Regions from separate parts of the Homo sapiens genome. Here region 2 is linked to region 1. The links come from fine-mapping of genetic effects on gene expression. A gene starts in region 1. The other region holds a variant in brackets. All regions are shown on one strand. Distances are from middle to middle. Region 1 holds the start of MFSD12 (major facilitator superfamily domain containing 12). Region 2 holds the start of LOC105372245 (a long non-coding RNA gene).

Region 1 (13,267 bases):
AAAAAAAGAAAGAAAGTTCCTGCCTCACAGGCTGCTGTGAGGATAGAGTTCATGTGTGGCACCAGCAAAAGCTCCGTCTATTCTGAACCACTTCCTGCTTCCGCAGCTTCAAAGTGAGGACTGTTCCTACCTTTTCCACAGCTGTTTCTGCTACTTGGAATGCGCCCCTCCACACACTGCTACCCATCCGTCAAAACCTCAAAGTTAATGTCCTTCCTTCTGAAGCCCATTTGTGCCATCTGCCCACTCACAGGAGTGTTTGTGTCTGATTCTGAGGGTCGTCTCGGGATTGTGGGGGAGCTCCCCAGGACTTGTTAAAGGGCAAAGTGAGTCCTTAGCCACCAGCCCCAGACTTGGGGGTGAAATACAGAAGTGGGTGCCATTGCCAGGGTAACCTTCACTCAAGTCACCTGCTCAGGCATCAAGAGCGGCTGCCTGGGCTTCTGCTCCCAACAGACCCTCCTGACCCTCCAGGCCCACCCAGGTGGCCCCCACCTCTCAGCTCCCAGGGCAGGTGCCCTCCCCGAGGCGGGGAAGAGGGGTGACGGTGGACGCCTTGGTGTCCGGTTGGACCACCTGGTTCCCTGAGGTCTGCTTTGGAAAAACATAAAGCCTTCGGTTGCTGTTTCTGTTTGTTTTCTTGTTTTGGTTTGTTGTTGTTGTTTTTTGTTTTTTTAGACAGACTCTCGCTGTGTCTGGAGTGCAGTGGCGCGATCTTGGCTGACTACAGCCTCTGCCTCCCGGGTTCAAACGATTCTCCCACCTCAGCCTCCCAAGTAGCTGGGATTACAGGCGTGCGCCACCACGCTCGGCTAATTTTTGTACTTTAGTAGAGACGGGGTTTTGCCATGTTGGCCAGGTTGGTCTCAAACTCCTGACCTCAGGTGAGGAGGCCTCCCAAAGTGCTGGGATGACAGGGGTGAGCCACCGTGCCCGGCCCGCCCAGAAATTATCTTACGCGACTGTCAAAGAGCTTATCCAACTATTATGATCAAAGAGGCATTTGGGGCCCTGGGCTCCGCTCAGCAACCAATCCCAACGTAACCACAAAGGAAGGGACAGCCGGTCCCCTCCCTGTCTGCCGCCGCCTCAGGTACCCCAGGAATAGCCTGGACATAGGAAACATGAAACTCCAGTCCCCAAGCTGTGCCTGCTGCGGAGCCTGCCACCCTCAGACCACTGGAGATCCACTGCCTCTTGCAAAAAATGTCATCACCCAGATCCTGGGTCCAACCACCCATCCCAGTCATTGTTCCCAAGGGTGAGGAGGCACCCGCCTGCCCCTCCTGCCACCTGGAATTCCAAGAACTGAGCAGGATTCCTGGCCCTGCCTGCTGAAATGCCACATGTGTCCCAAATGCCAGGACGCAGCCGGCACTTCTGTGAGGGCAAGAAGAGCAGGGAAGGAGGCCGGCTAATCTTCAGGCCCAGGGTCCGGGAGGGGAGAGGAGGGCCGCTGGGAGGCAGCCCTGCAGTCTTATCGATGGGCACTGGGGCAGGGTGACCCAGCCCATGACGCCAGCCTCCTGCCCTCCCAACAGCCCTCTCTAATCAGGGCAGCTCCCCCAGACCTAGGGGGTCCCTGACCCTGGCCAGACAGATAGAGGCAATGCAAGAACAGGGCAGAGACCCCTGACCCTCCAGTCCCACCCAGGCGGCTCCCAACTCTCAACTCCCGGAGCAGCACCCTCAAACTGCTGACGCACCAGGTTGCCCTGGCAGAACACACAGAGAGAGAGGAGGCTCTAGGGGGCCTGACTGTCCCTCAGCCATAGCTGTCCCAGTTGGTCACCCTAATAGACGAGCTCAGGCTAGACAGACTGACAAAGGAGGCGCTGAGCAGTCACCACCAACCCTCCAGAGGGTTCAGGGTGGCCCGGGGGCTCAGACAAACAAAGGCATTCCCACTAGAAAGTCATGTAGTCAGATGGTGAGGGCCCCGCAGGTCAGACAGCAGCTCTGAGGCAGACAGGGGAGGCTGGACCAAGGGACAGACAGAGGGGATACGGGGCAGTTAAACAGACAGATGGGGGAGGCTCATGGCTCAGGCAGATAGAGAAGCCCTGCACAGTTGGACAGATGGGGGAGGCACTGCACAGTCAGACAGATGGGGGAGGCACAGCACAGTCAGACGGGGGAGGCTCAGGCCATGGGGCAGAAAGACGGGGGATGCTGGATGGTGGGACAGGCAGGGGAGGCTCAGGAGTGACACCACAGAGGGGCCACTGGGTAGTCAGACAGACGGGGGAGGCTCAGGCCACGGAACAGCCAGAGGGGTGAAAACTCAGCTCATGGGGCAGACAAACAGGGGAGACTTAGGTCCCAGGCAGGCAGAGAGAGGGGGCTGGGTGGTGGGACTGATGGAGGAAGCTCAGGCCATGGGCACAGACAGACAGACAGGGGAGGTTCGGGCCAGGGGACAGACAGAGGGGTGAAAACTCAGCTCATAGGGCAGACAGATACATAGGGGAGGTTAAGGCCGTGGACAGACAGTGCAGGGAAGCTCGGGCCACGGGACAGACAGACCGAGGGGAGACTCCGATCCTGAGGCAGGCAGACGGCGGGTGGTGAGTCAGAGGGAGGAGGCGCCCGGGTCGCGGAGTCTCGGAGGGGCTGCCCGACAGGTGGCGGGGCCGGGACGCTTACCGACCAGGTGCCAGGCCTTGCGCGGGCCGTAGCGGGCGCAGCAGCTGGCGGCGCGGTCGGCCTCGTAGCCCACGAGCGGTGTGCACAGCCCGTCGGCCACCTGGCCCAGCAGCAGCAGCAGCCCCGCGCCGCGGGAGCTGTAGGCGCGCACCGAGTGCAGGTAGAGCAGCAGGTAGGTGAACCACATGGACGCGCACAGGTCGTTGAGGAAGTGGCCCACGGCGTAGCTCAGCCGCGCCACCAGGGACAGCGGCCGCGGGGACGGCGCCGCTCCGGCCGCTGGGGGTCCCGGGCCCATCGCGGCGCCGGGCCCGCGCCCCCCACCCCCGGGCTCCGCGGAGGGTACCCTGGCCAGGCCTTCTTGGGTGCCGTGGGGGCAGGCGCCGGGGACCCCCACCACGCGCCGGGCACCCCGCGTCCCGCTCTCTTACGGCCGCGCCCTCACCCACGTCCGCCGCGTCCGCCCCACGCTCGACTCTGCAGCCGCCGGGCCCCAGAGCCGGGCGACTGCGCCGGGCGGGGCAGGGCGGGGAGGTTCCGGTGCCTGAGCCAATCGGAGCCGCGCCCCGGGGAACCGCAGCCAATCGCCAAGGAGAGAGGAGAGGGGCGTGGCCGCAGGGCTCGTTCCGCCTCTACGACGGGCGCCCACGCGGTCCTAGCGCCCGCCGGGTATGAGGGCGAACCCCGAGCGCGCCGCAGGAGTGGCCGGCACCCCCATAGACTGGGGAAGGAAATGGACCAGAGGGCACCGCCGGCTCCCACCCAGACCCGGCCTCCAGGCCCGCACCACCCCAGTCCACCCGGAGCTGGACAGCCCACTGCGGGCCGGGGTGGAGCGAGTGGGACGGGCTCTGGATTTGGGGTTGGGGGGAGGTCTGAGCCCGAGCTGGCCTCGGGGTCCGCTGACTCCCCGGCCTAGAGAGACGCGATCGGGCGCGGAGAGGACGCAACAACACTAATTAATTGGTTACTAACGGTAATGATGGGGGTAATCAACATAATAGTACCAGCTGGCCTTTAACGAGCGTTGCCTGCAAAGAGCCCCACGTGGTGACGCAAATTTCACTCTCATTTTACAGGCGAGGAACAGAGTTGCCCGAGGCTCGCAGTGAGTCAGGCGTCTGTGACTCCCAGGCCTGTGCGCGCGACCCTCCCCGTCCAACCAACGTCCTCCCACAAACGGGTCACCGGACTGAGGGTTTCAAGTTCCTCCAGGGGGTGTGTGCGGTTCCCCCTAACTCAGGCCCTACTCCTTCCAGCAGCATTTTCTCTTCTTTCCTCTTTTTATTTATTTCAGAAACAGGGTCTTGAGACGGGCGCGGTGACTCACGCCTGTAATCCCAGCACTTTGGGAGGCCGAGGCGGGCGGATCACCTGAGGTCAGGAGTTTGAGACCAGCCTGGCCAACAAGGTGAAACCCGTCTCTATTAAAAATACAAAAATTAGCCGAGCGTGGTGACAGGTGCCTGTAATCCCAGCTACTTTGGAGGCTGAGGCAGGAGAATCGCTTGACCCAGGAGGCAGAGGTTGCAGTGAGCCAAGACCGCGCCATTGCACTCCAGCCTGGATAACAAGAGTGAAACGCCGCCTCAAAAAAGAAAGAAAGAAAGAAAGAAACGGTCTTGCTCTGTGGCCCAGGCTGCAGTGCATTGGTGCAATCATGGCTCACTACAGCCTCAATCTTCAGGGCTCAAGTAATCCTCCTGTCTCAGCCTCCCAGGTAGCTGGGACTACAGGCACGCATCACCACATGTGGCTAACTTTTGTATTTTTAATTTTGGAGAGACAGGGTCTCACTATGATGCTTAGGTTGACCTCAAACTCCTGGTCTCAAGCAAGCCTCCCACCCTGGCCTCCAGAAGCTCTGGGATTACAAACATGAGCCTCTGCATCGGGCGGGTCTCCAGCAGTTTTCTTTCTTTCTTTCTCTCTCTCTCTCTCTTTTTGAGATGGAGTCTCCGTCTGTCACCCAGGCTGGAGTGCTGTGTTGCAATCTCAGCTCACTGCAGCCTCTGCCTCCCGAGTTCCAGCGATTCTCCTGCCTCAGCCTCCCGAGTAGCTGGGACTACGAGCACCCACCACCACGCCCAGCTAATTTTTGTATTTTTAGTAGAGACGGGGTTTCCCCATATTGGCCAGGCTGGTCTCAAACTCCTGAACTGAAGTGACCCACCCGCCTTGGCCTCCCAAAGTGTTGGGATTACAGTCACGAGCCACCGCGCCCGGCCTACAGCAGTATATTTGGCCTTGCAGTCTGCAGTGAGGTATGATTGCACCACTGCACTCCAACCTGGGCAACAGCAAGACCCCAGCTCTAAAACAAAACAAAACAAAACAAAAGGTCCTTGCAGTATGGAAGGAGAATCGTTGGATCCAGACTTGGTTCCACTGATTCTCTGCTGCTCCACTTGGGACAAGTCTTTTTTTTTTTGAGACGGAGTCTGGCTCTGTCGCCCAGGCTGGAGTGCGGTGGCACGATCTCAGAACACTGCAACCTCCGCCTCCTGGGTTCAAGAGATTCTCCTTCCTCAGCCTGCTGAGTAGCTGGGATTACAGGTGCCCGCCAACACGCCCGGCTAATTTTTGTAATTTTATTTTTATTTTATTTTTTTTTTTTTTTGAGACGGAGTCTGGCTCTCTCGCCCAGGCTGGAGTGCCCTGGCGCGATCTCAACTCACTGCAAGCTCCACCTCCCGGGTTCACGCCATTCTCCTGCCTCAGCCTCCGGAGCAGTTGGGACTACAGGCGCCCGCCATCGTGCCCGGCTAATTTTTTGTATTCTTAGTAGAGACGGGGGTTTCACCGTGTGAGCCAGGATGGTCTCGATCTCCTGACCTTGTGATCTGCCCGCCTCGGCCTCCCAAAGTGCCGGGATTACAGGCGTGAGCCACTGCGCCCAGCCTGGGACAAGTCTTTTAACCTCTTGGAGCTTGGGTCTCCCCTGATCTAGAACGGGTACAGGAGTTATATAATTGGCCTGCCATGGTGGCTCATGCCTGTAATCCCAGCACTTTGGGAGGCCGAGGTGAGAGGATTGTTTGATCCCAGGAGTCCAAGACCAGCCTGGGCAATGTGCTGAAACCCTATCTCTATAAAAAATTTTAAAAATTAGGCCAGGTGCGGTGGCTCAAGCCTGTAATCCCAACATTTTAGGAGGCCAAGGTGGGCAGATCACTTGAGCTCAGGAGTTCGAGACCAGCCTGCCCAACATGGTGAAAACCCATCTCTACTAAAAATACAAAAATAGCTGGGCGTGGTGGCTGTGCCTGTAATCCCAGCTACTTGGGAGGCTGAGGCAGGAGAATCTCTTGAACCTGGGAGGGCTGAGGTTGCAGTGAGCTGAGATCGCACCACTGCACTCCAGCCTGGGCGACAGAGCGAAGATCCGTCTCAAAAACCAGAACAAAACAAAACCCAAGGCTCAAACAGCCAAGGGGTCCACGGCCCCGGCTGCCCACGGTGATGCAGGTCACACACTGTTTTATGAAAACTAGACTGAAAATGGGCGGGAGGGGTAAAAGAGGTCAAGACACAGAACCTAGAAAGGAAGGAGGAGAGATAAGGGGCAGACGACTCGGGGAGATAAAGGGTTGAGGAGAGATAAGAACCTCAATTCCTTCCTCTCTGTTTGGCACGTTCCCACTTAGAGTCCTCCTGGCACGTTCCCCTTTAGAGTCCTCTGAGGGAAATGAAAGATGACTTTTTGAAATATTAGCCTAGGGACCAGGGATCCTGGCTCCCGCCTGTAATCCCAGCACTTTGGGAGGCCAAGGTGAAGGGGTCACTTGAGGTCAGCAGTTCGAGACCAGCCTGGCCAACATGGTGAGACCCCCGTCTCTACTAAAAATACAAAAATTGGGCCAGGCGCGGTGGCTCACGCCTGTAATCCCAGCGCTTTGGGAGGCCAAGGCGGGTGGATCACGAGGTCAGGAGTTCGAAACCAGCCTGGCCACGATGGTGAAACCCTGTCTCTACTAAAAATACAAAAATTAGCTGGGCGTGGTGGCGGGCGCAGATAATCCCAGCTACTCGGGAGGCTGAGGCAGGAGAACGGCTTGAATCCGGGAGGTGGAGGTTGCAGTGAGCTGAGATCGTGCCGCTGCACTCTAGCCTGGGGGACAGACCAAGACCCCATCTCAAAAAAAAAAAAAAATTACAGTAATTAGCCAGGCGTGGTGGTGGGTGCCTGTAACCCAGCTACTCCGGAGGCTGAGGCAGGAGAATCGCTTGAACCCAGAAAGTGGAGGTTGCAGTGAGCCAAGATCGCGCCACTGCACTCCAGCCTGGGCGACGGAGGAAGACCCTGTCTCAACAACAACAACAAAATTAGCCAGGTGTGGTGGTGCACACCTGGAGTCCTGGCTACTCCGGAGGTTGCTGTGGGAGGATCACTGAAGCCCAGGAAACGAAGGCTGCAGTGAGCTATGATCGCACCACTGTGCTCCAGCCTGGGTGACACAGTGAGACTCAGTCTCAAAACAAAAACAAAAAAACTAATGTTTTTCCCATTCCTCATCTCCTTTCATCCCACAAGATCCCTAGGAGGTCTTACACCACTTCATGCTCTATTATTTTATTTTATTATTAATTTTTATTTTTAGAGACAGGGTCTTGCTCTGTCACCTAGGCTGGAGTGCAGTGGTGTGACCACAGCTCACTGTAGCCTTGGCCTCCCGGGCTGAAGAGATCCTCCTGCCTCAGCCTCTTGAGTAGCTGGGACTACAGGTGCCTGCCACCACACCTGGCTAATTTTTTCAGAGATGGAAGTCTTGCTATGTTGCCCTGACTGGTCCCAAAGAGATGGGATTACAGACGTGAGGCACAGTGTGCAGCCTTCATGACCCCCTCCACTGCCTTTTCTTGTTTTTTTTGAGATGGAGTCTCACTTTGTCGCCAGGCTGGCGTGCAATGGTACGATCTCGGCTCACTGCAACCTCCACCTCCCGGGTTCAAGCGATTCTCCTGCCTCAGCCTCCCGAGTAGCTGGGATTACAGGCGCCCGCCACCACGCCCAGCTTATTTTTGTATTTGTAGTAGAGACGGGATTTCACCATCTTGGCCAGGCTGGTCTCAAACTCCTGACTTCAGGTGACCCGCCCGCCTCGGCCTCCCAAAGTGCTGGGATTACAGGTGCGAGCCACTGCGCCCAGCCCTTCATGCCTCTTTTACAGATAAGGAAACTGAGTTTCACAAAGACGGGCATGGGCATGGGACTGTGGCGGGCATGGGACTAACAAGAGGCAGATGTGGGATTTGAACTCAGCTCCACGTGACCTCTTTATGTGCTGGCTGCGGAATGCCACCTGAGTGTGGAGGAACAGGTGCCTCACTGTCCACTGCTTTTTCAGCCTCCTTTGTAGGTCGAGAATCAGGCACAATCCCGCCTCCCTTTGGAGAAGATCCAGCGGAGGAGGCAGGGTGTGGTTAAAGCGCCAACACATCTCTGCATTCTTGTCCTTTTGCTGTTGTGGTGGTTGTTGTTTGAGACTGAGTCTTGCTCTGTCGCCCAGGCTGGGGTGGAGTAGCACGATCTCGGCTCACCGCAACCTCCACCTCCCGGGTTCAAGCGATTCTCCTGCCTCAGCCTCCCAAGTAACTGGGCTTACAGGCACCTGCCACCACGCTCGGCTAATTTTTTGTATTTTTTAGTAGAGACGGGGTTTCGCCATGTTGCTGTTTCGCCATGTTGTGGGTCGGTTCTCGAAATTCCTGACCTCCCAAAGTGCTGAGATCACAGGCATGAATCACCATACCCAACGTAGTTTTTTTGTTTTTGTTTTTGAAGACAGAGTCTTGCTTTGTCACCTAGGCTGGAGTGCAATGGCGCAGTCTCCGCTCACTGCAACCTCTGCCTCCTGGGTTCAAGCAGTTCTGTATCAGCCTCCCGAGTAGCTGGGACTACAGGCGAGCGCCACCACCCCCAGATAATTTTTGTATATTTAGTAGAGATGGTTTTCACCATGTTGGCCAGGCTGCTTTCGAACTCCTGACCTCAAGTGATCCGCCTGCCACAGCCTCCCAAAGTGCTGGGATTACAGGCGTGAGCCACCGCGCCTGGCCACCCAAAGTATTTTTGTTTGTTTGTTTGTGACGGAGTCTCGCCTGTCGCCCAGGCTGGAGTGCAGTGGCGCCATCTCCACTCACTGCAAGCTCCACCTCCCAGGTTCACGCCATTCTCCTGCCTCAGCCTCCTGAGTAGCTGGGACTACGGGCGCCCACGACCACGCCCGGCTAATTTTTTGTATTTTTAGTAGAGATGGGGTTTCACTGTGTTAGCCAGGAGGGTCTCGATCTCCTGACCTCATGATCCCCCTGCCTCGGCCTCCCAAAGTGCTGGGATTACAGGTGTGAGGCACTGCGCCTGGCCACCCAAAGTATTTTTAAATTTTTTGTAGAGATGAGGCCTCATCATTTTGCCTAGGCTGGTCCCGACCACCTGGCTTCAAGTGGTCCTCCCGGCTCAGCCTCCCAGAGTGTTGGGATTATAGGCATGAGCCTCGGCACCTGGCCTCTGTTTTTGTCCCTTTGAAGCCAGCTAATATTTCCTAGCCCTGACTTTGTGGGGTGAGCAGGAACTAGGTCTGACCTCTTGCTGAGGAGCCCCAAAGATTCTGAAGCCCCTGCTTTTGAGGGGAGACAGGGATGACCCCTCCCAGTTCCCCTCATCAGGGACAGGACTGGAGGAGTCAGACCAAGAAGGGCGGTTACAAGGTAGGTGAGGAGTTGGGACATTACCCTGAGGTCACTAGGGAGCCATGGTAGGGGTTAGAGGGAGGGTGGGACTGAGTCAGATTAAAAAGTCCAGTGGGAGATGAGGAAGGGCTTCTTCCAAATGAAGGCCTCAGCTGCGTGCGTGGGGAAGCCACAGGAGAGGACATGTGCCCCAACAAGAGTGGGGGTTGGACGTGAGGGTAAAGATCAGAGAAGGCCCTGTCTAGAGATGTCAGGAAGGCATGATGAAAGCTCAGGCCCTCGGGGTAGGACAGAGGAGTCAGGAGAGATCCTCACAGTCTGATGTCCCCAGCCCATCACCAGCAGCCCCCTGACGCCAAGCCTGCGTTCCCCCTCCCCTGGCCGGACATCGGATGTCCTGATGGCCGCAGTCCAGCCTCGGGGTGGGGTGGGGAATGTCAAGTACTAGAGGCTTCCTTGATCTTCTGTGACCCAGGCCTGGGGTGACAGAGGTGGGGGGGTGGGCAGTGAGGGTTCCTGAGGCTGCACTGAAACTTCCTTATATCTGAGGGTGGCCACGGTGGAGGCGGGGGAGCAGGGGAGCAAAGCCAGGATCAAATCTGGGCAGTCCCTGACAAGCCACCAAGCTTCAGTTGCCCTCTCTGTAAAATGGGGGTGAGGTGAGAGTAACCGAACCAAACAGAATACCAGGAGGCTTCAACCACACAACTTGGCCGGGCGCGGTGGCTCACACCTGTAATCCCAGCACTTAGGGAGGCCGAGGCAGGTGGGTCACCTGAGATGAGGAGTCTGAGACCATCCTCGCCAATATGGTGAAACCTCATCTCTACTAAAAATACAAAAAATTATCTAGGCCTGGTGGTGCATGCCTGTAATCCCAGCTACTCGGGAGGCTGAGGCAGGAGAATCACTTGAGCCCGGGAGGCAGAGGTTGCAGTGAGCCGAGGTCTGGCCATTGCACTCCAGCCTCGGCGACAGAGTGAGACTCCATCTCAAAAAAAACATTAGCTGGGCATGGTGGTGGCCACCTATAATCCCAGCTACTCGGGAGGCTGAGGCAGGAGAATTGCTTGAACCTGGGAGGCAGAGGTTGTGGTGACCTGAGATCGCGCCATTGCACTCCAGCCTGGGCGACAGAGTGAGACCCAGTCTCAAAAAAAAAAAAAAAAAAAGGATGGGGAGGGAGGGAAGGAAGGACGAACTCTTTTTTTTTTTTTTTTTTTTTTTGAGACGGAGTCTTGCTCTATTGCCCAGGATGGAATGCAGTGGCACGATCTCAGCTCACCACAACCTCCTCCTCCCAGGTTCAAGCGATTCTCCTGTCTCAGCCTCCTGAGTAGCTGGGATTACAGGTGCCTGCCACCACGCCTGGCTAAGTTTTTGTATTTTTAGTAGAGACGGGGGTTTCTCCACGTTGGTCAGGCTGCTCTCTAACTCCTGACCTCATGATCTGCCCGCCTCGGGCTCCCAAAGTGCTGGGATGACAGGCGTGAGTCACTGCGCCCGGCCTCTTCAGTCAGTCTTTGCGTGACTCAGTCTTTGCCAGGACCCTCCTGGCCTCAGGTCCTGTTCAGTATCTGGTCTACCATTGCCAGAAGGAGCGCATTCTGTGAGTCTTGTGATTTACGTTTTAACGTTGATGCTGGTCAGTCCTTGCGCTGAGAGCAAAACGGGGAGGAGCTGTAACGAAGCGCGGTGACCTCCTGGCACGGCAGGGCCTGGAACTCGGAGCTTTTTGTTGTTGTGTTGTGTTTTGAGACGGAGAGTCGCTCTGTCGCCCAGGCAGGAGTGCACCGGTGCGATCTCAGCTCACTGCAACCTCCGCCTCCTGGGTTCAAGCAGTTCTCCTGCCTCAGCCTCCCGAGTAGCTGGGAGTATAGGCGTGTGCCACCACATCCGGCTAAGTTTTTTGTCTTTTTAGTGGAGATGGGGTTTCGCCATGTTGGCCAGGCTGGTCTCGAACCCCTGACCTCAGGTGATCCGCCCGCCTCGGCCTCCCGAAGTGCTGGGATTCCAGGCGTAAGCCACTGTGCCTGACCAACCTCGGTACTCCTGACGTTTGGGACATCATTTTTTGTGGTGGGGGCCGTGTAGGATCTCTGGCCTCAACCGTGTAGATGCCAGTAGCACCCCCCTAGTCCGACAATGAAAAATCTCTCTAGACATTACTAGGTATTTCCTGGCGTGACAGAGTTGGCCCCGGATGAGAACCACTGAGCTAGAGCGTTTTCTGTAACAGGTGTTTGATTCTCCCTGGACAATCCCAGCCAGCAACGTCATAAAGGTAGACAAAGCAATTATCCCACTTAACAGATGGAGAAACTGAGGCACAGAAGTTGAGTAAATTGCCCAAGTCCCACAGTTGAGGCTCAGATTGCTTCCCTGAGTTCCTGAGGGCCCAGCAGCAGTGGGGTGCCCCTCCTCAGAGGCCTGAGATCCCTGTCCCACCAGCCCTGTGTTCTGCCAGCCCCGGGGCCAGGGGATGCTAGGGGCAGTAGCTCTCTTTCCGCTTCCCTGTCGCCTTCTCAGCTCTCCAGCATCTGTTTAAGCAATGCCTGTATGAAGTTGCCTCTATAAAAAGCCCCAGGAGGCTTGAGATTGTCCGTGGCCTGGGAGAACCAACCACACCCTGACTCTCCCTGGGTGGTGGAGAAAAGTCCACACATCCATGTTGATTAATATCTATTAAAAATTTAAGGTCAGGCGCGGTGGCTCATGCCTGTAATCCCAGCACTTTGGGAGGCCGAGGCGGGCGGATCGCGAGGTCAGGAGATTGAGACCATCCTGGCTAACACAGTGAAACCCCGTCTCTACTAAAAATACAAAAACTTAGCCGGGTGTGGTGGCGGGCGCCTGTAGTCCCAGCTACCCGGGAGGCTGAGGCAGGAGAATGGCATGAACCCGGGAGACGGAGCTTGCAGTGAGCAGAGATGGCGCCACTGCACTCCAGCCTGGGCGACAGAGAGAGACTCCATCTCAAAAAAAAAAAAAAAAAATTAATGGGGGCATGTAATCCCAGTACTGTGGTACTGTGGTACTGTGGGAGGCTGAGGCAGGAGGATCACGAGGCCAGGAGTTTGAGACCAGCCTGGCCAACATGGCAAAACCTCATCTCCACTAAAAGTACAAAAATTAGTCTCGCATGGCGATGTGTGCCTGTAACCCTGGCTACTCTGAAGGCTGAGGCACGTGAATCACTTGAACACGGGAGGTGGAGGTTGCAGGGAGGTGGAGGTTGCAGGGAGCTGAGACTGAGCCACTGCACTCTAGCCTGGGAGCTGGGCAACAAAGCAAGACCCCATCTGTACGAAAATTAAAATAATCAGCCAGATGTGGTGGTGCATACCTGTGGTCCCAACTGCTCGAGAGGCTGAAGCAGGAGAATCACTTGAGCCCAGGAGTTCGAGGTTGCAGTGAGCTGAGATCCGATGACTACACTCCAGCCTGGGTGACACAGCGAGACACCATGTCTCAAAAAATAATAATAGTAAAAAATACCCTTTATCTGAGCGATATTATTGAGTAAACAGAACTGGTTGCAGTTGAAGCTTACAGCATGAAGGCACTGGTATAATACACAGCAGAATAGGACCTCACATTTGTTTGCTTACTTTTATTATTATTTTTTTTTGTAGAGACAGGGTCTCACTATGTTGTCCAGGCTGGCCTCAAATTCCTGGGTTCAAGCAATCCTCCTGCCTCAGCCTCCCATAGTGCTGGGATTACAGGTGTGAGCTACTGCACCTGGCCAGGACCTCACTTTATTTATTTATTTATTTTTTTGAGACAAAGTCTCGCCATGTCGCCCAGGCTGGAGTGTAGTGGCTCGATCTTGACTCACTGAAACCTCTGCCTCCCAGGTTCAAGCAATTCTTGTGCCGCAGCTTCCTGAGTAGCTGGAGCTACAGGTGTGCACCACCATGCGTGG
Region 2 (13,827 bases), 68 kb before region 1:
CTCACTGCAAGCTCTGCCTTCCGGGTTCACGCCATTCTCCTGCTTCAGCTTCCCAAGTAGCTGGGACTACAGGCGCCCGCCACCACGCCCGGCTAATTTTTTTTTTTGTACTTTTAGTAGAGACGGGGTTTCACTGTGTTAGCCAGGATGGTCTCGATCTCCTGACCTCTTGATCCACCCACCGCAGCCTCCCAAAGTGCTGGGATTATAGGCGTGAGCCACTGCGCCCGGTGAGGGTGGCTTTTTATATTTTTGTTTGTTTTTGAGACAGAGTCTCGCTGTGTCACCCAGACTGGAGTGCAGTGGTATGATCTCCTCACTGCAACCTCTGCCTCCCGGGTTCAAGTGGTTCTCCTGCTTCAGCCTCCCAAATAGCTGGGACTACTTTCCAGGGTTTTGTTTTGTTGGTGGTGGTGGTGTTCTTTTAAGACTCCCTCTCCCTCTGTTGCCCAGGCTGGAGTGCAGTGGGGCCATCTCGGCTCATTGCAACCTCCACTTCCCAGGTTTAAGCAATTCTCATACCTCAGCCTTCCAGGTAGCTGGGACTACAAGCATGTGCCACCATGCCCAGTTAATGTCTGTATTTTTAGCAGAGACAGGATTTCACCATGTTGGACAGGCTGGTCTCCAACTCCTGACCTCAAGTGACCTACCTGCCTCAGCCTCACAAAATGCCGGGATTACAGGTGTGAGCCACTGTGCCCAGCTTTTTCTTGTTGTTTTAAAAACATTGCAGCTGGTCTGTGTTGATGGGTAAAGAGAGGAAACCAAGGAGGCAGGAGAGAAAAGGGGGAAGGGCTGAAGTAATGGCTGTGAGTTGATGAGAAGGACGAGGAGTTGGTGAGGAAAAGAGGTGGCTCAGGCAGCCAATGTCACATTGGAAGGTGCCACCTTGGAAGTGGCTCCTTCGGCCCCAGTTGAGCCTTCAGATGAGGCAGCCCTGGCCGACAGCTTGATTGCAACTTCATGAAACACCCAAAGCCAGAAACATCCAGATACGCTTGCTGCTCCCAGACTCGTGACCCACAGGAAAGGTATCTGTCTTCTTTCCTCTGTCTCTGGGGGTTTTCTTGTCTTCTTTATTTAAGATGGAGTCTTGCTCTTGTCACCCAGGCTGGAGCGCAATGGCACACGATTTCGGCTCACTGCAACCTCTGCCTCTTGGGTTCAAGTGATTCTCCTGCCTCAGCCTCCTGAGTAGCTGGGATTACAGGCATGCACCACCACACCCAGCTAATTTTTGTATTTTCAGTAGAGATGGGGTTTCACCATGTTGTCCAGGCTGGTCTCGAACTCCTGACCTCAGGTGATCCACCTGCCTTGACTTCCCAAAGTGCTGGGATTACAGGTGTGAGCCACCGCATCCGGCCTTGTCTTTTTTTTTTTTTTTTTAATTAAAGAGATGGGGGTCTCACTATGGTGCCCAGGCTGGTCTTGAACTCCTGGGCATAAGCGATCCTGCCTTGGCCTCTAGAGTAGCTGGGACTATAGGCATGTGCCTCTGTGCTCAGGTCCACTTTTCTGTCTCTGTAAGGACACTGGTCATTGGATGTAGGGTCTACCCTAAATCCAGGATGATCTCATGCTGAGATCCTTAACAACACCTGCAAAGACTCTATTTCCAAATCAGGTCACATTCATGGGTACCAGGGGTTACCACCTGGACAAGCCTTTTCGGGGGACACGATTTGACCCAAGTCCAGCTGTTTGAAGCTGCTAAGTTTGGAGTAATCTGTTGCACAGCCACAAGGATCTTAGGTAAGTCTTGGCTAGCAGAACCAACAGTTCATCAGCCAGCGTTAGCAGGCAGGAGGGGAGGCAGCATGCACGGCACAGGGACAGGCAGGCGGGCACAGCTGTTGGTGGGGTGTGCGGAAGGTCTGCTTGATTTTTTCACTGAAGCCGAAAGCAAGGTCATCAGCTGAGTGAGGATGAGGGAGGTTGGAGGCCAACAAGAAAGTGACAGAACAGATCGCAAGAGAGAGAGCCCCACGGAACCATAGTAGAATGGATGTTGGCTGCTCAGGAGGCTGAGGTGGGAGGATCACTTGAGCCTGGGAGACAGAAGTTGCAGCGAGCTTAGATCGAGCCACTGCTCTCCAGCCTGGGCAATAGAGCAACACTCTGTCTCTAAAACATAAACAAGATGGCCAGGCACGTGGCTCATATCTATAATCCCAGCACTTTGGGAGGCTGAGGAGGGCAGATCATTTGAGGCCAGGAGTTCAAGACCAGCCAGGCCAACATGGTGAAACCCTGTCTCTACTAAAAATACAAAAATCAGCCAGGCATAGAGGCATGTGCCTGTAGTCCCAGCTACTCAGCAGGCTGAGGCACAAGAATTGCTTAAACCTGGGAGGCAGAGGTTGCAATGAGCTGAGATTGCACCACCGCACTCCAGCCTGGGCAACAGAGTGAGACCCTGTCTCAACACAGAACAAAACATACTGAGACCCCGTCTCTACAAAAAAATACAAATATTACTCAGGCACAGTGGGGCAAACCTGAGGTCCCAACTGCTTGGGAGGCCAAGATAGGAGGATCGCTTGAGCCCAGGAGGTTGAGGCTGCAGTAAGCTGCAGTGATCAGCCACTGCACTACAGCCTGGGAGACAGAGGGAGACCCTCTCCATTTAAAAAAAAAAAAAGTGAGCCAAGCGCAGTGGCTCACGTCTGTAATCTCAGCACTTTGGGAGGCCAAGGCGGGCTGATCACAAGGTCAAGAGTTCAAGACCAGCCTGGCCAACATGGTGAAACCCCATCTCTACTAAGAATACAAAAATTAGCTGGGCGTGCATGGTGGCACGTGCCTGTAATCCCAGCTACTTGGGAGGCTGAGGCAAGAGAATCACTTGAACCCGGGAGGCAGAGGTTGCAGTGAGCTGAGATCACGCCAATGCACTCCAGCCTGGGTGACAGAGCAAGACTCCATCTCGGGGGGAGGCAAAAAAAAGGCTGGGTGTGGTGGCTCATGCCTGTAATCTCAGCACTTTGGGAAGCCGAGGCGGGTGGATCACCTGAGGTCAGGAATTTGAGACCAGCCTGACCAACATGGTGAAAGCCTGTCTCTACTAAAAAATACAAACAGGCCAGGTACGGTGGCTCACACCTGTAAGCCCAGCACTTTGGGAGGCCGAGGCAGGAGATCGAGACCATCCACCATCCTGGCTAACACAGTGAAACCCCGTTTCTACTAAAAATACAAAAAATTAGCCGGGCGTGGCAGCGTGCGCCTGTAGTCCCAGCTACTCGGGAGGCTGAGGCAGGAGAATGGCGTGAACCCGGGAGGCGGAGCTTGCAGTGAGTGGAGATCGTGCCACTGCACTCCAGCCTGGGCAACAGAGCGAGACTCCATCTCGAAAAAAAAAAAAAAACAAAAAAAAAATTTAGCTGGGCATGATGGTGCATGCCTGTAATCCCAGTTACTTGTTAAGCTGAGGCAGGAGAAGTGCTTGAGCCTGGCAGGCAGAGGTTGCAGTGAGCCGAGATCACGCCATTGCACTCCAGCCTGGGTAATAAGAGTGAAATTCCATCTCAACAAAAATAATAAAATAAATTAAAATTAAAAACCTATAATCAAACATGTGACTTCCAGGCAGGTTTCTCAACCTCTGCACTCATTTGGGGCCGGATCATTCTCTGTTGTGGGGACCGAGTGCTGGAGGTTATCTTCCAGCATCCCTGGCCTCCCCCGACTACCTGACTAGATGCCAGCTGCACACCCCCACCCCCCACCCCATGACAAGCTAAACTGATGCCCCGGGGCAGGATCCAGCACTCCGGTGGAGAACATGGCTCAGTGGATAGTCGGTTCCCGTTGCGTTTTGCCTCCTGTCTTCTGGTTTTGGCCTCTCTGGCTGCAGACCAGGAGCTCTGCACCTGAGATTCTACCGCTATGCCTATTTTACAGAGAGGTAAGTGGGCTGTCCCCAGCCACACATGGAAGGGCTGCGGGAGCCGGCGGAGGAAGCCATGTCTGGGCTCTCAGCTGGACCACAGAACCCCTTCCACTGCACCCACAACAGGAGCTGGGGGAAGACGGGGGTCCGGGAAGGGCCAGGCTGGAGGGCTGTTTCCCCAGAGCCCACTTGGAGGGAGCTGGCTGGGCAGATCTGACCAGGTAACCGCACATAAAACAGGTGCAGGCCTGCCTGTCGCTGGTGGTGGCTCAGTGTCAGCAGCAGGACAGATCCTAGAGCCAATGGCTGCGGATACAACCGTCTCCCCGCCCAGACGCCACACACTCTCGGGGAACGTTCCCTGAAAGCCCCCACCCCTCCCTCCCTCCCACGCTCCCCTCACCCAACACACTCAGAGGAGTCAGTGCTTGGCAAAAATAATTTAATATTCCATCTGGGCAGCGCTCTGAGGTCTGCTTGTCCCTCCCTGGCCCCTGTGCCCTACCTGACCCACTCAGGGACCACCACCCTGTCCCTACCCAGGCCTCGGGGTGGGGGAGTCAGAGGCCCCCAGACCCTGTGTCCCATTCCTAGTGAAGCTGAAGCCACCATAACGTCAGCCTCTTCCCAGAGCCCCAGCTCTGCCCCTGGCTTCCCTCGCGATCCTCCCCTGGCTCCCCTCGCGATCCTCCCTTGGCTTCCCTCGCGATCCTCCCCTGGCTTCCCTCGCGATCCTCCCCTGGCTTCCCTCGCGATCCTCCCCTGGCTTCCCTCGCGATCCTCCCCTGGCTTCCCTCGCAATCCTCCCCTGTCCTGAGCCGGGCATCCCAGAGCCTCCCGCAGAGTCCCACCCCAAGCCTGGAAACTTCCACGCTACAGCCCTGCGCCAGGCCCCGAGGAGCAGTCAGGGGACTCAGGGAGTCACAGCACAACGGCAGCTCCTCGGTCCCAGACGGAGGAGGGGGACAGCAACCATGCGCCCAGCAAGACACAAGCGATGACACCGATTTACACACACCCGGTTTAGACGCCAAAGCTCTGCGGGGGAGGAGCGGCCCTCAAGAGTCCTCCGGGAGCTCCGGGTGAGGGTGGGGCCCTAGGAGGGGGCCCCGCGCAGCTGCTCCAGGCCGTCCGCGTACTGGAAGGCCCGCCCGGTCTCGTGCTCATACATGTCCAGAGCCACCTCGCAGCTCTCACGCACCACGCGCTCTGGGTCGTCCGCGTGAGCCTGCAGCGCGGCCAGGCAGGCGGGCCGGGCAATGGCGCCCAGGGCCTCCGCGCACTCGTGCCGCACCATGGGGTTCTCGGTGCATCGGGCCAGGGCGGCCGCCAGCTGGGGCACCGCCGCCTCGTGCTGCAGCTGTCCCAGGACGTAGCCGACCTCGTGGCGGAAGAGGGCGCTCCCACAGTGCAGACCTGCAGGGGAGAGGGACACTCGCTGGGGCCAGGAGGGGTGGGAAGGGGAGCTCTGTCTTTTCGAAGACATGGGGTCTTGCTATCTTGCCCAGGCAGGTCACAAAGTCCTGGCGATCTTCCCATCCCGGCCTCCCAAAGTGCTGGGACGACAGGCGTGAGCCACCACGCCCAACCTGGGGTGTTCTACCTTGAAGACACCCCTGCCCCCAGCCCCAGTGATTAGGGATGCCCGGGGGAACTGACCGCAGCTATGGGGGCGGGAAAAGCTGGGAGCTATGGGGACCAAGAGGGACGCTTGCACGGGTTCTTAAGAGGCCCCATGGGAAATGCTTGGGGCCAGGCCCGGGATGCCGTTCCCGGGGGCAGGCCGCGGCCCCACTGCACAGATGCCATCACTGAACCTCACAGCGAGGCACTGCCCAGGACCCCACCCCAGAAGCCCCTCCTCACCCTCGGCCAGCGCCAGGGCGGCCTCCTCGCCTCCCGCGTTGCGCAGGGCGAACATGGCGCGGTATCGCTCGAAGAGCGGCCGGGACTCATCCAGCAGCGCCTCCCGCAGGCGCCCCACGTCACGCTCCTCAGCCGGCGGGGCAGGGTCCACGGAGAGGTAGGGTCCCGCCGCCGGCTCCCCGCCGTGCTGCTGCAGCCACTCCAGCCTGCGCACGGCCAGCTGGCAGGTCTCGGCCACCTGCGGGGAGGGGGTATCAGGCAGCGGGTTGGCCCTGGGGGGTCGCAGGGGCCCTTCCCCACCCCCCGGGATGGCAGCTTAGCAGGGGAGAGAGACACTGGCAGGGTGACTAACCCATCATTCCAGGCAGGAAGTAAGCCAGCAGGGGTGGCTGACTTGTGAGTGACCGGGGGACTGGAGGGCTGGGGAGGGCCTCAGGGAGGAGGTGATGTGGAGGCAGAGACCTAAGCCAGCTTAGGGAGGGAATCAGGTGGAGACCCGGGGATGGGGAAGCAGCGGTGGAAAGGCCCTGAGGCAGGACCCTGCGGGAGGGGTGAGGGCCAAAGGAACATGTGCGGCCCCACCTGACCAGGTAAGGCCTGCGGGCCACTGTAAGGGCTTGGGATTTTGTCCTAAAGGTGATGAGATATCGTGAGAGCTTTAAGCATGGAACAGAACAGCAGAATTGAGTGTCACACGTACCCCCGGCTGCCCCGGAGGAGGAGAGACTGAGGGTCGGGGTGGGATGTGGACAAGAAGTGGCAGGGGAGAAAGGAACATGCATGTCCGTGGCGGCATAACTCATAACAGCTAAAAAGCAGAGACAATTCAAGCATCCAGCCACAGTGAGTGGACACAGCATGGGCCGTCCACACCACGGAACGTGACTCAGCCACAAAAAGGAATGACGGGCCGGCCGAAGCGGCTCATGCCCCTAATCCCAGCAGTTAGGGAGACCAAGGCAGGAGGATCGCTTGAGCCCAGGAGTTCAACACCAGCCTGGGCGACAGAGCGGGACTTCATCTCTATAAAGAAAAAACTAATAAAATAAAAATTTGTTTCATTTTTGGGCCAGGCGCGGTGGCTCACGCCTGTAATCCCAGCACTTTGGAGGCCAAGGCGGGTGGATCACGAGGTCAGGAGATCGAGACCATCCTGGCTAACATGGTGAAACCCCGTCTCTACTAAAAATACGAAAAGATTTGCTGAGCGTGGTGGCAGGCGCCTGTAGTCCCAGCTACTCTGGAGGCTGAGGCAGGAGAATAGCATGAACCTGGGAAGCAGAGCTTGCAGTGAGCCGAGATCGCGCCCACTGCACTCCAGCCTGGGCGACAGAGCGAGACACCGTCTCAAAAAAAAAAAAGAAGAAATGTTGGAAGGTAGCAGGAGATCTCTGAAGAGGTCTGGTGGGCCAGGACAAGGTATCAGAGGTAGAGGGCACTGGGTGGGTTCAGAGGGGTCTTGGCAGAGGGACTGGACGTGGGGGTTCAGAGAAAGGGGGTCAGGCCGGCTCAGGGGCTCAAGGCCCGGGATGGAAGCGGGTGAGCAAAGCTGGTTGTCGCCGTTTTGCCAAATGGGGCGCAGCAAGTGTCTGTCCAGATTGTCGCCCTCGCCTTCCTCATCCCTGGGGCATCCTTGGCCAAGTGGTCGCCCTGGCAACCAGAGATGGGGAGGGTCTGAGGCTGCTCCAGGTCAGGGCTGGGGCAGGGCTGGGCAGGGCTTCCCAGGGACCCGAGACTGGCAGGGAGACAAGCAGGGGCCTGGTTACCTCGATGACGGGGTCCGAGGAATACTGCTTCAGGATCTCCAGAACTTCCGGGTCCCCGATGGCCCCCAGGGCCTCCCCTGGGAAGAAGCAGCCGGAGAGCTCATGTTGGTGGGGTGGATGTGTGGAAAATGCCCGGCTACCTCTGGGACCGGAGGACACCCCTCCCAGGGCTCTGCCACTGTGGGGAAGCCCCGCCTCTGTCCACGGCTGATTGGAGCAGCAGTCGGTACAGGCTCCCCGCTGGACCAATCAGCATCCCCTCCCCAGAGCAAGGCACTGCCTGGAACCGCACCTGGCTGCCGCTCAGAGCAAAATGGACCCCATCCCGGCCCGTACCATGAGACAGGGAGACAAGTATATCCCTACAACTCGGGATCACAGCTGACAAGCAGCTCCAAGAACCCAGGAGGTCGGGGGTGCAGTGAGCTATGATCACACCACTGTACTCCAGCATGGGCGACAGAGTGAGACCCTGTCTCAAAAAAACAAACAAAAAAAATTCCCAAAACAGGCCGGGCCTGCCGGCTGGAGACTCCAGAATTTGGGGCCACTGGGGCTACACTTAGGTGGGTTCGGGTACAGGCGCAAGTGCAGGCGTCGCAAGCCCAGGTCGGAGCAAGGCTGGCGGCGGCTCCCCGTAGAGCCCTGGGTGCAGATGTTCCTTGAATTTTCTCAGAATCGAGCTCAAGGGCCCTGCCTGTGAGGCAGCTGAGCTGGTGGCTTTTGCCTTTCCTGAAGGTTGCGGTTTGCGTTTGTGCACCTGCCTGGCAGGCTCCCTCTGCCGGGAAAAGTCCCGTATGCGCCAACACAGGCTCTGTGTCAGGCACCTCCCACGCGCTAATTGCAAATGAGCTCACTGGTTACAGAAACACAGTCCCAGTGGCACAGACGCACCAACTACCTGCCTCACTGGTCTCCTTCGCTGTCTAGGTCCCTCGCTACAACAGTCCATTTTTTTTTTTTTTTTAGAGCTTCGCTCTTGTGACCCAGGCTAGAGTACAATGGCGCGATCTCCACTCACTGAAAACTCCGCCTCCTGGGTTCAAGTGATTCTCCTGCCTCAGCCTCCCAAAGTAGCTGGGATTACAGGCGCCGGCCACCACGCCCAGCTACTTTTTTTTGTATTTTTAGTTGAGACGGGGTTTCACCATGTTGGCCAGGCTAGTCTTGAACTCCTGACCTCAGGTGATCCACCCGCCTCAGCCTCCCAAAGTGCTGGGATTACAGGCGTGAGCCAATGCACCCGACCTGAACAGTCCATTTTTTTGAGACAGGGTCTCACTCTGTTGCCCAAGCTGGAGTGCAGTGGCATGATCATGGCTAACTGCAGCCTCAACCTCCCTGGCTCAAGTAATCCTCCTGCCTCAGCCTCCTGAGTAGTTGGGACCACACGCGTGAGCCACGATGCCCGGCTTGTATCTGTATTGTCACTGTTTTGTCTCTTACTACATGACAGAGCCTGGCATACAGTAGGTGCTCACTAAATGTGTGTCCAATGAGTGGAGTAAATCTAATATACATTAGGGATTGGGGATCTATGGCTTGTCGCTTGTTTTTATACGAGCAAAGAATGGTTTTTAAAACACTTTTAAGGGTTTAAGGCGGGGTGCGATGGCTCATGCCTGTAATCCCAGCACTTTGGGAGGCCGAGGCAGGTGGATCACTTGAGGCCAGGAGTTCAAGGCCAGCCTGGCCAACATGGCAAAACCCATCTCTACTAAAAATACAAAAATTACCCAGGCGTGGTGGCACACACCTGTAACGCTATCTACTTGGGAGGCTAAGGCAGGAGAATCACTTGAACCCGGGAGGCAGAGGTTGCAGTGAGCCAAGACGGCACCACAGTACCCCAGCCTGGGCGACAGAGTGAGACTCTGACTCAAAACAAACAAATAAATGGTTTAAAACAAAAAATCAAAGGGATAGTACTTCCTGATGGGTGGAATTTATATGAAATTCAAATCTCAGCATTTACAAATGAAGTTTGTTTTTTGTTTTTTCACAGACAGGATCTCACTCTGTTGCCCAGGCTGGAGTGCGGTGGCACGATCATGGCTCACTGCAACCTTGACTTCCCGGGCTCCAGCGATTCTCCCGCCTCAGCCTCCCAAGTGGCTGCGACTACAGGTGCATGCCACCATGCCTGGCTAATTTTTGTATTTTTTCTAGAGACAGGGTTTTGCCATGTTGCCCAGGATGGTCTTGAACTCCTGAGTTCAAACGATCCACCTTCCTGGGCCTCCCAAAGTGCTAAGATTACAGGCCTGAGCCACCGCCCCCTGCCCAGTTGAGGTTGTCTGGGCACACAGCCTTAGCCATTTGGTGACAGATGACCTGCGCTGGCTTTATTGAGTCGCTGTCTGGCTGCAGAGCTGCAGGTATTTACTATCTGGTGCTCTATGGGGCAGTTGACCACTCTGATATTTATCACCTGAGTGAGGAAGGGGACACGTGGGGTCATGAAGAAGTGAGGCAGGAGGGAGCAGGTGCCCGGGACACAGACAGGTGCTCACCTGCCTCATGGCGCACCATGGGCTCCTGACGGGTGTCTTGCAGCACGTCCACCAGCATGGGGATGGCGCGGGCATCCTGCATCTGGCCCAGGCAGTAGGCCAGCTCGTGCTTGAGCAGGGCGGAATCGTCATCGAAGGCCTGGCTGATCCATGCAATGGCGCCTGGGCCGCCGAGCCCACGCAGCGTGAACAGCGCCCGGAAGCGGGCCTGCAGGGGCTGCTTGGGGTCCACCAGCGTCTGCCCGATGGCATCCACCTCCTGCTCCGTCACCATCGTGCTGTCAATGGGTCCCGGCCTTCCACAACCCTGCTCAGGCTAAACCTGGGGACGCGGGGATGTAAGAACCTGTGGCAGAAAAATGAGAGCCCAGGTTAGAAGCCCCCTTCACCAGTGCGTTGTCTGTTCCTAGGACCTGGGTGGGGCAAATTCCTACCCACTGACCAACCTGAGCATCTACGCTGAAAGCTCAGCTCCAACCTCCCTACTAGCTGTGCAGCCTTCCGTAAGTTGCTTTCCCTCTCTGGGCCTCAGTCTCTGCACTGCCTCTCGCCTATAGGCCTATCAGAAATGACCTCCACTGTCTGCTCTCCACACAGCAGCCAGAGGGACAGCTGACCCCCAAAATGGCCCTAGCGATCCCCACCCAATATTCAAGGCTTTATATAGCGATCCCCACCCAATATTCAAGGCTTTATATAGTC[C/T]TCTCCCACTCTGAACAGGGCTGACCCATGTGAATGCCAAGAAGATGGAACAGAGCAAGACTTCCAAGGTTAGGGCATAAAAAGCACAACAGTCTCATCCTTGTTCTCTCTCTAGGGGAAGCCAGTGACCATGTTGTGAGGATGCTCAAGCAGTCTTTTGTAGGGGCCCACGTGGCAAAAAACTGAGCCCTCCCACCAACAGCCATGTGAGAGAAGTGGGCTGGCAGCAGCTCGTCCAGCCCCAAGCGAACCTTCAGATGATGCAGCCCCAGAGCGTCTCCACTGAGGCCTTACCAGAGGCCAGACCCAGAGCCAGCCAGCTAAGCCAGGCCCAGAGCAACTGTGTGCGACACTGTTTACTGTTGTTGAAGGTAACCAAGTATGTTTTTTTGTTTGTTTTTGAGACAGGATCTTGTTCTGTCGCCAGGCTGGAGTACGGCAGCATGATCACGGCTCACTGTAGCCTCGAACTCCCAGTCTCAAGTGATCCTCCTGCCTCAGACTTCCTAGTGGCTGTGTCTACAGGCACACACCAGCATGCCCAGCTAATTTTTTTTTTATTATTTGTAGAGATGGGGTCTCACTTCTATGTTGCCCAGGCTGGTCTCCAACTCCCAAGCTCAAGTGATCATCCTGCCTCAGCCTCCCAAAGCATTAGGATTACAGGCATCAGCCACTACCCCCAGCCATTATGGGGATTTTTGTTACACAGCTTAGATAACAGATTCAGAAGTACTTTCAATATGTAAACTGGACCATATCACTCCCTTGCTTAAAATCCTCCTATGCCTCCTCACTCAACTACTTGACAGTCCCAAAGGCCCTTCATGACCATCTCCCATCACCTCTTCCCTCTCTAGCTCCACTCCAGCCACACAGGCCTCCTCGCTGTTCCTCCAACACGCCAGGCCCAGTGCAGCCCTAGGGCCTTTGCATTTGCTGTGATCTCCATGAGGAACATTCTTCCCTAGATGTCCCCACGTAGCAGGCCAGGCCTCACTAACACAGGCCTCCATAACTGTTTCAGCACTGACTGAGTGGTTAAGTTAAACATTAAAAGCTAAAAGAGCCAGTGCCCTCATACAAAGGCTGGAATGTAACAAAAGCCCATGAAGAGTTTTGCCCAGGCCTTTCCTGGGCCTTAAGGCATGACAAGATAATGAAGGAATTTTTTTTTTTTTGAGACAGAGTTTCGCTCTTTTGCCCAGGCTGGAGTGTAGTGGCATTATCTCGGCTCACCACAACCTATGCTTCCAGGGTTCAAGTGATTCTCCTGCCTCAGCCTCCCGAGTATCTGGGATTATAGGCATGCACCACCATGCCCGGCTAATTTTGTATTTTTAGTAGAGACAGGGTTTCTCCATGTTGGTCAGGCTGGTCTCGAACTCCCAACCTCAGGTGATCCACCCGCCTCAGCCTCCCAAACTGCTGGAATTACAGGCTTGAGCCACCACACCCAGCCAATAACGAAGGAATTCTTAATGTGACCCGTTTAGGATGAAACAAGTTTTACTGGGTGTCTGAAGAACTCCCCAAACCTCCATGATTTAGCAGGAGACAAGATAAGGATGATCACCCCAGCACCTGGACCCACTGGAGATGAGATAAGGGTGATCACCCCAGCACCTGGACCCATTTAGATTAAGTAAATTTACTGAGGTTCCAAAGGAAAGTCTTCAGGATTCAGATCTTAGTTATAGATTAAAAGAAGTTAGTCACTTTAAGTCTTTAGATGGATGCTCAGTTACATGTAGATGGAGAGCTTAGAGGGTATATAAGCTCTGGAAAACTTTGTCATTTTGAGTTGGTCTGGCGATATTTTCCAGGCCTTCTCCCTGTAACCGGTTACAGAAATAAAAACTCTCTTCCTCCCCAGTTAATCTGCATCTCGTTATTGGACCATGAGAAATAGCAGCCCGACCCTCAGTTTGGTCCAGGAACACCCGTGCTCATCCTCTTGCTTTCCTGGGTCTCCAACATCACTTCCTCATGGAAGCCTTCCCTGATCACAATGGACAATGTTACTCTTCCATCTCTTTTCACTTATTCAGCTTTATTTTTCTCCACGGCGCCTAAGACTCCTAGATATCATATTGGAAAGTATTGGTTTAGTTGCTTGTGATTGGTCTTATCCCTCATTAGAATAGAACTCTGAAGGCTGGGACTGAGTCTATCTTGGTCACTGTTGTATTCCCAGCACTTAGTGCAATGACCTGCACGCAGTAGGGCCTCAATAAAAACAATAACCGGCTGGGCGCGGTGGCTCACGCCTGTAATCCCAGCGCTTTGGGAGGCCGAGGTGGACAGACCATCTGAGTTCAGGAGTTCGAGACCAGCTGACCAACATGGTGAAACCCCATCTCTACTAAAAATACAAAAATTAGCTGGGCGTGGTGGTGGGCGCCTGTAATCCCAGCTACTCGGGAGGCTGAGGTAGGAGAATCGCCTGAACTCGAGAGGCGGAGGTTGCAGTGAGCCGAGATCGTGCCATTGCATTCCAGACTGAGCTACAAAGCAAGACCCTGTCTCAAAATAAATAAATAAAATAAAAACGACAACCGTGACAATAGCAGCTGACACTTATGTAGCATTTGCTACGCGCCAGGCACTCCATGCTCTTTACATTCATTAATTCATTCGATCTACATCACTACCCTGTGAGGTAGTTACTAAGATTGTCCCCATTTTACAGGTGAGGAAACTGAGGCACAGTTTGGGACTGTGCTTGGGAACTTGCTTGGGAGCAGCGTGAAGAGTTAGGAATCCAGGAAGTCTGGCTCCAGAGTCGGGCTCTAAACCACCAACGCTTTGTTGAATGACTTAGGATAAAAGAACACAGCCAAGGGGAGAAGGGACCCCTCTCTTTCCAGATCGGCTGAGAACCTGGCGGATGCTTCATCTCAAGACAGGCTGGCTATGGCATGCTGGCAGCCCTCTCTGGTGAACAGTGGCGTCAGCAAGGCTGCCTGGGCTTGACGAGGGCAGTGTAGCCACCTAAGCACAGGTGACCATCAAAGGAGAGTGACACCTTTAAAGAGGGGTCATCAGAAACCAGAGGGCAGGCCTGTGCGAGCTGGCAGGG

The links. PIP is the estimated chance that this variant, and not a neighbour inherited with it, causes the effect.
Region 2: its variant is fine-mapped to the expression of MFSD12 in lung (TOPMed, PIP 0.95).

What each region holds. Positions count from the first base shown.
Region 1 is chr19:3,554,460-3,567,726 of GRCh38, forward strand. It overlaps MFSD12 (major facilitator superfamily domain containing 12), which reads right to left and starts at 3,127. Exons shown (of 10, transcript NM_174983.5): 1 at 2,647-3,127. The coding sequence starts at 2,944. RefSeq lists silencers at 2,553-2,722, 2,903-2,972, 3,013-3,562 and an enhancer at 3,672-3,966.
Region 2 is chr19:3,486,498-3,500,324 of GRCh38, forward strand. It overlaps DOHH (deoxyhypusine hydroxylase), which reads right to left. Exons shown (of 5, transcript NM_001145165.2): 2 at 10,044-10,389; 3 at 7,531-7,607; 4 at 5,765-6,002; 5 at 4,327-5,314. The coding sequence starts at 10,317. The coding sequence ends at 4,995. It overlaps LOC105372245 (a long non-coding RNA gene), which reads left to right and starts at 9,618. Exons shown (of 4, transcript XR_936262.3): 1 at 9,618-9,657; 2 at 10,454-10,546; 3 at 10,861-11,116; 4 at 13,438-13,827. It overlaps LOC105372246 (a long non-coding RNA gene), which reads left to right. Exons shown (of 5, transcript XR_936264.2): 2 at 1,631-1,758; 3 at 3,595-3,913; 4 at 4,025-4,119; 5 at 4,778-4,864. RefSeq lists a silencer at 7,645-7,845. The variant C/T (reference allele first, on the strand shown) is at 10,746.